2 separate regions of the Homo sapiens genome follow, and region 2 is linked to region 1. Evidence: fine-mapped expression QTL. A gene starts in region 1. The other region holds a variant in brackets. All regions are shown on one strand. Distances are between the middles of the regions. Region 1 holds the start of GIMAP2 (GTPase, IMAP family member 2). Region 2 overlaps LOC107986860 (endogenous retrovirus group K member 19 Env polyprotein-like).

Region 1 (5,379 bases):
TGCCTGTAATCCCAGCTACTCAGGAGGCTGAGGCAGGAGAATCACTTGAACCTGAGAGGCAGAGGTTGCAGTGAGCTGAGATTGCACCAATGCACTCCAGCCTGGGCCACAGAGCCAGACTCCATTCCCTCCACCCCGCAACCAAAACAAAAGGAAATCAAGATTGCATAATAAGAGTCAGTGGCTGGGAGGAAAAAAAAAGTTGTTTCTCATTTGGATCTCAGAGTTCAGCTTGATCAATAAACAAGTTCCATACACAATGAAGCCAGAGACCTCCTATTTCTCACAGGTGAGGGTTGAGTGTGAAGGCAACTTGGTAAGGAGGAAGATCTGGGCTCTTCTTGATGTAAGAGACTGAAGACAGGGCTGTCGAGGGGCAGAGAGTGAGGAGGAGGGAGTGGGAAAGGGGAGGTCAAGATACAGAGAGAGAGACGCCCATACCATACAGATAGCAGAAACAGGTGCAAGAAGAGGAGAGAGAGAGAAAGGACAAGGGAAGAGAAGGGAATGATAGAGACAGACAGAAAGACAGAGAGAGAGACACACACACACACACACAAAGAACCTATGGAAATGTGAGAGAAGGAAGAGAAGACTGAATGGTAGGAGAAGGAGTATTTCAAAGAGATCTGAAAGATTTGTGCATAAGGGAAAAGCCTGGATGCATATTTTGGATCCTGGTGAGTATTTTAACAATTTTCGAGCCAGACTTGGTGGTTCATGCCTGTAATTCCAGCACTTTGGGAGGCTGAGGCGGGTGGATCACAAGGTCAGGAGTTTGAGACCAGCCTGACCAATATGGTGAAACCCCGTCTCTACTAAAAATACAAAAAAAAATTAGCTGGGCGTGGTGGTGTGTGCCTTTAGTCCCAGCTACTTGGGAGGCTGAGGCAGGAGAATCACTTGAACCTGGGAGGTGGAGGTTGCAGTGAGCCGAGATTGCGCCACTGCACTCCGGCCTGGGTGACAGAGAGAGACACTGTCTCAAAACAAACAAACAAACAAACAAACAAAGAAAACAAAACCCCACAATTTTCAGCTGCTGGTGGTGGTAGCTGTGGGAGTTAGAATAAGATCCTTCACCCTTGTTTATTTTGCCCCAACATCATCAGAAGAGCCAAACACACACACACACACACACACACACACACACACACACACACACACACACGTGAAGTCACCTTCTTACCCCAGTGACTGTGTTCATTTTGGTCCATTGGTGTTCCTGAGAAACAGAGAGACAAGAAACTTATTTTTCAGTTCTAAATCATGAAAAATTCTTATATTTCTTTTCTTTTCTTTTTCTTTCTTTCTTTTTTTTTTTTTTTTTTTTGAGACACAGTTTCACTCTGTCACCCAGGCTGGAGTGCAGTGGTGCGATCTCGGCTCACTGCAACCTCCACATCCTGGGTTCAAGTGATTCTCCTGCCTCAGCCTCCCGAGTAGCTGGGATTATGGGTGTGCACCACCATGCCCATCTAATTTTTGTAGTTTTAGTAGAGACAGGGTTTCACCATGTTGGCCAGGCTGGTCTCAAACTCCTGACCTCAAATGATCCACCAGCCTCGGCCTCCCAAAGTTCTGGAATTAAAAGCGTGAGCCATCACACTAGGCCAAGATCCTTATATTTCTAAACAACCATGTTTCATTTGTCTACTCATAAGGGACAAGGTGGGTGGGAAAGGAATGACTTCCTACTTTACAGAGAACTGGAATCACTTGCTGAGGGGCTGAGAAGTGGGTTTCATTTGTAAGCCTCATGCCCAGCTCTCTCTCGCTTTCTTCCTCCCGTCCTCTCACAGATCAGCCCGGCTCCCTTCTGTTTTTGTTTTGCCTGCACACTCTTCGCTTCTGTCAGCTTTCTCTGTAGGTGTGCCTTCCCTTACACCTTAGGCTCAGTCCTCCCTTTCCCTCTCTTTCTTTTCCCACCTTGCCTCCTTCCCTCCTCTACTCTCTCCAAACCTCCTCCCTCATGTTGAGTCTTTGCTGAGAGACTCAGTGAATGAAGATTATGACTCTGGGAAACCGTGCAGTCCTTTAAGCTGGAAATACACTTCACTTGATCCATTAATGGCTTGAATTTTTCTCATTCCCCAACAGCCCCTGGTTATGAAGCCCTTGCAATGTAGGAACTACTATGGAGTGAGAAATATCGGTACGTTTTCATCAGCTAGTTTCTCTTGCTTAAATCTGGCAGGCATAGACCAAGCGTACAAGCACAGAAAACTGAAAGCCACCGATTAATGCCCAAATTCTTCCCAGTTAGCACTTTTTATTGACTTTATACTATGGAAATTCTTTCTTTGCCAGTAATGTGTAAAGTAAATTACATCGGTTTCCTGTAAACTGGCTCCACTTAAGGAAAAGGCAGTCACTCTAAATTGCTTCTCTTAAAATAGGACAAATTTGTTCTAAGAAAAATGAAAATGTTTGTGCATGGCTTGGGACCTAGAAATCAACACTGCAGAACTTTTCGTAAATCTGGGCTTACCTGATTTACTGTTCAAAGAAACAGTTGGCTCCCTGTTCAGTCCTGTTGTCTTATAGCTCAGCTCCAAGAGAAAAAGAAAGTAAAACCGAGACTCCAGTCGGTCTTCTTCCTCTCTTGAATCTTCCTGAGCTTCCTGACTGCTAATGAACGCCACCACGTGCCTGTGTTTGAAATTCTCTTTCATGCCATTATGCAAAATAAACAGTTTAAATGGAAAGTTAATCAGTAGTTATTTGCTGTCATGTGGGCCAACTGTCTCTTCTTCTCAAAAGTGAAAAAAGAGTGTTTTAATGATTTCATCTGGACTGGAAAGAAAGGCATGAATGCCAAGGAAGTTGGTGGATTTCAGTCCTTCCCAGCTGGGATATGTCCCAACAGTTAGAAGTTTGTCTAGATGCAAATGGCCCCCTGAGAAGGGCTTAAACCTCATTGACACCAGCAGCAGGGATTGTTCTAAAGCAGATGCCACTGGGAGAGAAGAGGAGCCTCTGATAGGCACTGCCCAGGGGAAGAAGGGCACAGAAAGGGGAACCTGAGAGGGGACATTTTTGTCTGAGTCTGATTGTAAGGATCATTAACCATCAAAACATTTTTACATAACTCATTCATGGCTTCTAGGATTCTGGGCCTTTCTTCCCTGTCCAGCTCTGTAATTTCAGAGAACCTCCCTGTGGGGAGAAATTGTCTAGGAAATGTCTATAGTAATACTCTGGAGTGTTGGCTGGGTCAAATGGTATTTCTAGTTCAAGATGCCTGAGGAATCGCCACACTGACTTCCACAATGGTTGAACTAGTTTACGGTCCCACCAACAGTGTAAAAGTGTTCTTATTTCTCCACATCCTAGCATTTAAAACATTTCCTTTTGATTGTCTTGGAGTTTCCAGGTTTATCATAGACTCAGTTGCAAATAGTGATAATTTTCCCTCCTTGTTTCCAAAAATATCTTATGTTGCTTTCTCTTGTATAATTACAATTGCTTGCTACCTTTTCAAAAGTGAGTTAATGTGCTTTTATTATTTATTTACCTGTAGGGCACCTAATATCTTATCATTAATATTGATGTTGGTTATTGGAAATTAATTAGTTTATTTTAAAATCAGTGTGGCTATACTTTGCTTAGTCCTATTTCATTAAAGTCTTTTATCTGTGGTATAAATTTAGAAAATTTTATTTTGACGTTGACTGATATAATTCCATGTCTTTTTCCTTTTGACCTACTAATATTGCAAATTACATCACTGCGTTTCCTAACATAAGTGATATGTACATGTACATGTGCAAAGGTTTGGGTTCCTAGGAATACAGACTGTTGAGATGAAGATAAAATGGATGAAGGAAGTTTATTAGGGAATCTTCTCAGGAAATGTGCTAGAGGGAGAAGGGAAGAACCCAGGATTAGGCAGGGAGAAGTGAGACTGAGATGTAGTCACAACAAATATAGACTCTACAGGGAGTTCTAAAGTTTGGTTGGACTTTCAGAATGAAGGAGAGTGAGCAGAACTTTATAATCCCCATCGGATGCAAACTTCCTCTGGAAAAGACACTTGACTTACATAGGGCATCTCTCTTCAGCATAAGCTAATTTCTGGACAGGTCTGACGGCTCAACAGCTGAGAGCTAACAACTGGTCTCACTCCCAGCAACTGGAGATAGGTCCTTCTGTTTTTGCACTGTTCCTCTAGGTTTGGAGATGCAAATATTGCTTCTCCTGCTTCATCTTTTAGATCATCTGTAGAGACTTCCAAGCACAGTTTTAAATATCTCCCTCATGAAATTTCTTGTTCAAGCCTTCTCACTCCTGTCCCTTCTGAACATGAGCATACATGGAACATTTCCCCTATGTCCCATGGTTCTAGTAAGTGATGTGACTACAGCCTTAAAGGAGGAGTAAGATAGATGTTGGGAGGAGGTGAGGAAGGAGAGGGCAGGGGCTGAGTAGAGGTGCATGTTTTAGAGTACTATGACATTTTAAAATTCATTTTATTCCCATGGTTCAAGGCAATTTTGGAAAATGGGTCAAGCCGAAAGAATAGACCACAGATTTCCTGCAGTCATATTGAGATGTATTTGACAATTGTTCTGTGGTTTCTTGTAAAGTGTTTATTTATAAAGCAGTACTGTTCAATAGAGAATTCTGTGATGGACATGTTTACTGTCTGCCCTGTCCAATATGGCAGCCACTAGCACATGTGGCTGTTGAGCACTAGCAAGGTGGCCAATGTGATGGAGAAACTGAATTTTACATTTTAATTTTAAATCATATAATTAAACGGCCACATGTGGCTAGTGGTTACCGTTTTGAACAGTGCAATTATAGAGTATATCATTCTCAATAAGATGATACAAAACATTGTGTATGTAAAAGGAGGGGGTGCACAGGTAAAGATATGATGAGAAATTGCAAAACAAAAGGAACAAGTGGATTTAACATCCCAAAATTCCAAAACATGGGGAGGGGAGGCTTGTTACTGTGAATTTAAAAATTGCGGTGACTTTCCCCATTGCTTGTTTTTGTCAGGTTTGTCAAAGATCAGATAGTTGTATATACGTGGAATTATTTCTGAGGGCTCTGTTCTGTTCCATTGGTCTATATCTCTGTTTTGGTACCAGTACCATGCTGTTTTGGTTACTGCAGCCTTGTAGTATAGTTTGAAGTCAGGTAGCGTGGTGCCTCCAGCTTTGTTCTTTTGGCTTAGGATTGACTTGGCGATGCAGGCTCTTTTTTGGTTCCATATGAACTTTAAAGTAGTTTTTTCCAATTCTGTGAAGAAAGTCATGGTGGGGATGGCATTGAATCTATAAATTACCTTGGGCAGTATGGACATTTTCATGATATTGATTCTTCCTACCCATGAACATGGATTGTTCTTCCATTTGTTTGTATCCT
Region 2 (5,379 bases), 130 kb after region 1:
CTTGCAATAGTTTACTGAGAATGATGATTTCCAATTTCATCCATGTCCCTACAAAGGACATGAACTCATCATTTTTTATGGCTGCATATATTCCATGGTGTATATGTGCCACATTTTCTTAATCCAGTCTATCATTGTTGGACATTTGGGTTGGTTCCAAGTCTTTGCTATTGTGAATAGTGCCGCAATAAACATACGTGTGCATGTGTCTTTATAGCAGCATGATTTATAGTCCTTTGGGTATATACCCAGTAATGGGATGGCTGGGTCAAATGGTATTTCTAGTTCTAGATCCCTGAGGAATCGCCACACTGACTTCCACAATGGTTGAACTAGTTTACAGTCCCACCAACAGTGTAAAAGTGTTCCTATTTCTCCACATCCTCTCCAGCACCTGTTGTTTCCTGACTTTTTAATGATCGTCATTCTAACTGGTGTGAGATGGTATCTCATTGTGGTTTTGATTTGCATTTCTCTGATGGCCAGTGATGGGGAGCATTTTTTCATGTGTTTTTTGGCTGCATAAATGTCTTCTTTTGAGAAGTGTCTTTTCCTGTCCTTTGCCCACTTTTTGATGGGGTTGTTTGTTTTTTTCTTGTAAATTTGTTTGAGTTCATTGTAGATTCTGGATATTAGCCCTTTGTCAGATGAGTAGGTTGTGAAAATTTTCTCCCATTTTGTAGGTTGCCTGTTCACTCTGATGGTAGTTTCTTTCGCTGTGCAGAAGCTTTTGTGCAGCAGAGGTTGCTGACAAAAGTTGTTTGTGGTAAATGTTGCTGCAAGGGCATGCCTGTTTCTTTGCACATCTGAATAGGAATGGCGTAGTCTGAGCACTTAGAGGCTTATCTTTATAACAGGAAGCATATAGAGACATTGCATGGCCTGGTCCTATGGCATTTCTCTCTTTTTGAGGACCTGAGATTCAGTGTAGAAGTCCTCGATTTTAAAAGTCTGGGTGTTCTGCTTTTCAACTGTGTAAATTGTTAGGGTTTACAAATTACAAGTAATTTTTTGGCCCTGTTCCTTGATGGGCTCCACCCTGGGCTCAGTAGTCAAGTTGAAGAAACAGACTGCAGTAAAAGTTACCTATCTTAAATGAAGTTGATCTCCTTGTGAAATCCTATGGTGAATTCCTATAATTTTGCATTGTTTTGGCATCCTTTTTTGATCTTTCTCTACCACACACACACACAAATTCCTTCTTAAAGGAGCGTGGACTTTCTCTCTCTCCCCTGACCCCTTTGAGATGTGGATTGCTACCCTGTTTCCTCTGGGGTTAGGTGAGGGCTTGAGTTGTCAGGGACAAGTGGGCATTGACTTATTCAATTTGCAGGGACATAAGCTTAATCCAGATGTCTTTTAGGATGAGTGAGTTCTGCCAGTTTCATGGCTAGAGTTTTAAAATCAAGGCTGGGTATCTTTGCTTCTCTCTGTATTTTTATGTGCACATGTGAGTATGTTTTTATGTATTTACTGTGATATCAAATTGGCTTATAAACAAAGGAGTACTCATAAATGAAATAAATAAGTCCAGTTTTTTTCAAGTTTATGTGATTTTAGCAGTCTTTGATAAATATAGTTTTTAAATTGTTGTTAAAATAGAAATGTCTTCAAAATTTAATTTAGACACATTTGTCTTGGTCAGGAAGGTTTATAATCTTTCTGCTGGATGTTTTAAGATCATAAAACTCTAGCTGCCATACTACTTCTGATACTCAGTGCCTTTATTAGGTCTTATGATTGTTTAGGAAACTGAGTCTCCTCCCTATCAAAGAGTAAAGGTTTTTGCTTTTTGAAATATTTTGGTTATCACTTTGGCTAAATAAATGACTATTATATCACAGTGACCTATGATATTAAAGTAACTCTATCCTCATAAGGATTCCAGATCAGACATTTTGAATGCAAGTCACCATATGATTCAGCAGTACCATGCCATGACTGGAATAGCCTTATGATACTTTAAAGTGGAATATTTATTGATTTGAGGGGCTTGATGGAGGATGGAGAGTGAAGATGGGGAAGAACAAGTGGGATCCTATTTTTAGCAAGTAGGTTTTAAAAACACTCTTATTTTAGGTTAAGGCATACATGTGCAGGTTTTTTATATAGGTAAATTCGTGTTACGAGGGTTTGTTGTACAGATTATTTCATCACCCAGGTATTAAGCCTAGTACCCATTGGTTATCTTTTGTGCTCCTCTCCCTCCTCCCATCCTCCACCCTAAGGTAGGCCCCAATGTCTACTGTTCCCCTCTGTCCGTGTGTTCTCATCATATAGCTTCCACTTATAAGTGAGAACATGCAGTGTTTGCTTTACTGTTCCTGCATTAGTTTGCTAAGGATAATGGCCTCCAATTCCATTCACGTTGTTGCAAAGGACATGATCTCATTCTTTTTTATGGCTGCATAGTATTCCATGATGTATATGTAACACATTTTCTTTATCCAATCTTATTTCTTTCTCTTGCCTGATCTCTGGCTAGGACTTCCAGGACCATATTGAATAAGACTGGTGAAAGATGGCATCTTTGTCTTGTGTGGGTTTTTAAGGGGAATGATTTCAGCTTTGGCCCTTTTAGTATA[C/A]TGTTGGCTGTGGGTTTGTCATAGATGGTTCTTATTATTTTGATGAATGTTCCTTCAATACCCAGTTTATTCACAGTTTTTGACATGAAGGAATGTTGCATTTTATCAAAAGCATTTTCTGTGTCTATTGAGATAATCATGTGGTTTTTGTCTTTAGTTCTGTTTATGCGATTAATTACATTTATTGATTTGTGTATGTAGAACCAACCTTGCTTCCCAGGGATAAAGCCTACTTGACCATGGTGGATTAGCTTTTTGATGTGCTGTTGGATTTAGCTTACCAGTATTTTGTTAAGGATTTTTGCATCAGTGTCCCTCAGAGATACTGGCCTGAAGTTTCCTTTTTTTGTAGTGTCTCTGCCAGTTTTTGGTATCAGGATGATTCTGGTCTCATAGAAAGAACTGGGGAGGAATCCCTCTTCCTTAATTTTTTTGGAATAGTTTCAGTGGGAATGGTACCAGCTCTTTATATATGTGGCAGAATTTGGTTGTGAATCCATTTTGTCCTGGGCTTTTCTTGGTTGGCAGGCTATTTGTTACTGATTTCATTTTGGAGCTCATTACTGGTCTGTTCAGGGATCCTGTTTCTTCCCGGTTCTGTCTTGGGAGGGTGTATGTGTGCAGGAATTTATTCAATTCTTCTAGATTTTCTAGTTTATGTGCCTAGAGGTGTTCATAGTAGTTTCTGATGGTTGTTTGCATTTCTGAGGATTTAGTAGTAATATCCCCTTTTTTTGTTTCTAATTGTGTTTATTTGAATCTTCTCTCTTTTCTTCATTAGTGTAGCTAGTGGTCTATCTATCTTATTAATTGTATCAAAACATCAGCTCTTGGGTTCATTAACATTTTGAATGGTTTTTCATGTCTCATTCTCCTTCAGTTCAGCACTGATTATTTCTTGTATTCTACTAGCACTGTGGTTGGTTTGCTCTTGCTTCTCTAGTTCTTTTAGTTGTGGTGTTAGGTTGTTAATTTGAGATCTTTCTATCTTTTGATATGCGCATTTAGTGCTATAAATTTCCCTTTTAACATTACCTTAGCTGTGTCCCAGAGATTCCACCATGCTATATCTTTGTTTTCATTAGTTTCAAAGAACTTCTTGATTTCTGCCTTAATTTCATTGTTTATCTAAAAGCCATTCAGGAGCAGGTTGTTTAATTTCCATGTAGTTGCATGCTTCTGAGCAATTTTCTTAGTCTTGAATTCTATTTTTATTGCTCTACAATTTAAGAGAGTGGTTGGTATAATTTCAGTTATTTTACATTTGTTGAGGATTGTTTTATGTCCAATTGATTTTAGAGTATGTGCCATGAGGTAATGAGAAGAATGTATATTCAATTGTGTTTTTGTGGAGAGTTCTGTAGATGTTTATCAGGCTCATTTGGTCCAATGTTGGGTACAGTTCCTAAATATGTTTGCTAATTTTCTCCCTCAGTGATCTGTCTAATATTGTTTGTGGGGTACTGAAGTTTCCCACTATTATTGTGTGGGAGTTGAAGTCTCTTTGAAGGTCTCTATGAACTTGCTTTATGAATCTCTGTGCTCCTGTGTTGAGTGCATATATATTTAGGATAGCTAGATTTTCTTTTTGAATTGAAGTCTTTACCATTATGTAATTCCCTTCTTTGTCTTTTTTTAATCTTTGTTAGTTTAATGTTCTTTTTTTCTGAAATTAGGGTTGCAACCCCTCCTTTTTTCTGTTTTCTATTTGCTTTTAGTAGATTTTTCTCCACTTCTTTATTTTAAGCCTATGTGTGTCATTGCATGTGAGATGACTCTCTTGATGACAGCATACCATTGGGTCTTGCATCTTTATCAAGCTTTCCATTCTGTGCCTTTTAGGTGGGGCATTTAGCCCATTTACATTCAAGGTTAATGTGGACACATGTGGATTTGATCCTGTTATTGTGTCATTAGCTGGTTGTTATGCTAACTTGTTTGTGTAGTTGCTTTATAGTGTCACTAGTCTGTGTATTTAAGTGTGTTTTCTTGTAGAGGCTGGTAATCTTTCCTTTCCACATTTAGTGCTTCATTCAGGAGCTCTTGTAAGGCAGCTCTGGTGGTAAAGAATGCCCTCAGCATTTGCTTCTCTGAAAAAGATCTTATTTCTCCTTTGTTTATGAAGCTTAGTTTGACTGGATATGAAAATCTTGGTTGGAATTTCTATTCTTTAACAATGTTGAACATAGGCCCCCAGACTCTTCTAGTTTGTAGGGTTTTGCTGAGAACTCTGTAGGTAGTCTGAAGGGCTTCCTTTTTAGGTGACCTGCCCTTTCTCTCTAGCTGCCTTTAACATTTGTTCTTTCATTTCAACCTCAGAGAATCTGATGATTATGTGTCTGAGAGATGATCTTCTTGTGAAGTATTTTTCAGGGTTCTCTGCATTTCCTTAATTTGAATATTGGCCTCTCTAGCTAGGTTGGGAGCATTGTCATAAATGATATCCTGAAATATGTTTTCCAAGTTGCTTATACTTTCCTCATCTTTCAGGAATGCCAACAAGTCATAGATTTAGCCTCTTTACATAATTCCACATGTCTTGGAGATTTTATTTGTTCCTTTTCATTCTTTTGTCTTTATTTTTGTCTGACTGCCTCCTTTCAGAAAGTCAGTCTTCAGACTCTGAGATTCTTTCCTCAATTAGGTCTATTCTGCTGTTTAAACTTGCAATTACATTCTGAAATTCTTGTAGTGGGTTTTTCAGCTCTATCAGGTCGGTTACATTCTCTTCTATAGTGGTTATTTTTTCTGTCAGCTCCTGTATCGTTTTATCATGATTCTTAGCTTCCTTAGA

Evidence for each region. PIP is the estimated chance that this variant, and not a neighbour inherited with it, causes the effect. A credible set is the group of variants that fine-mapping cannot tell apart.
Region 2: its variant is the best candidate, but not a certain one, in a credible set for the expression of GIMAP2 in nasal epithelium (TOPMed, PIP 0.67).

What each region holds. Positions count from the first base shown.
Region 1 is chr7:150,682,898-150,688,276 of GRCh38, reverse strand. GIMAP2 (GTPase, IMAP family member 2) reads right to left here and starts at 2,571. Exons shown (of 3, transcript NM_015660.3): 1 at 2,492-2,571; 2 at 1,190-1,225. The coding sequence starts at 1,217. It overlaps LOC124901774 (a long non-coding RNA gene), which reads left to right and starts at 564. Exons shown (of 4, transcript XR_007060589.1): 1 at 564-680; 2 at 2,101-2,155. RefSeq lists an enhancer at 2,497-2,696.
Region 2 is chr7:150,552,381-150,557,759 of GRCh38, reverse strand. The region is part of intron 1 of LOC107986860 (endogenous retrovirus group K member 19 Env polyprotein-like); the gene reads left to right. Among named protein-coding and RNA genes, the nearest start is that of GIMAP4, 12 kb to the left of the region's middle. The variant C/A (reference allele first, on the strand shown) is at 2,586.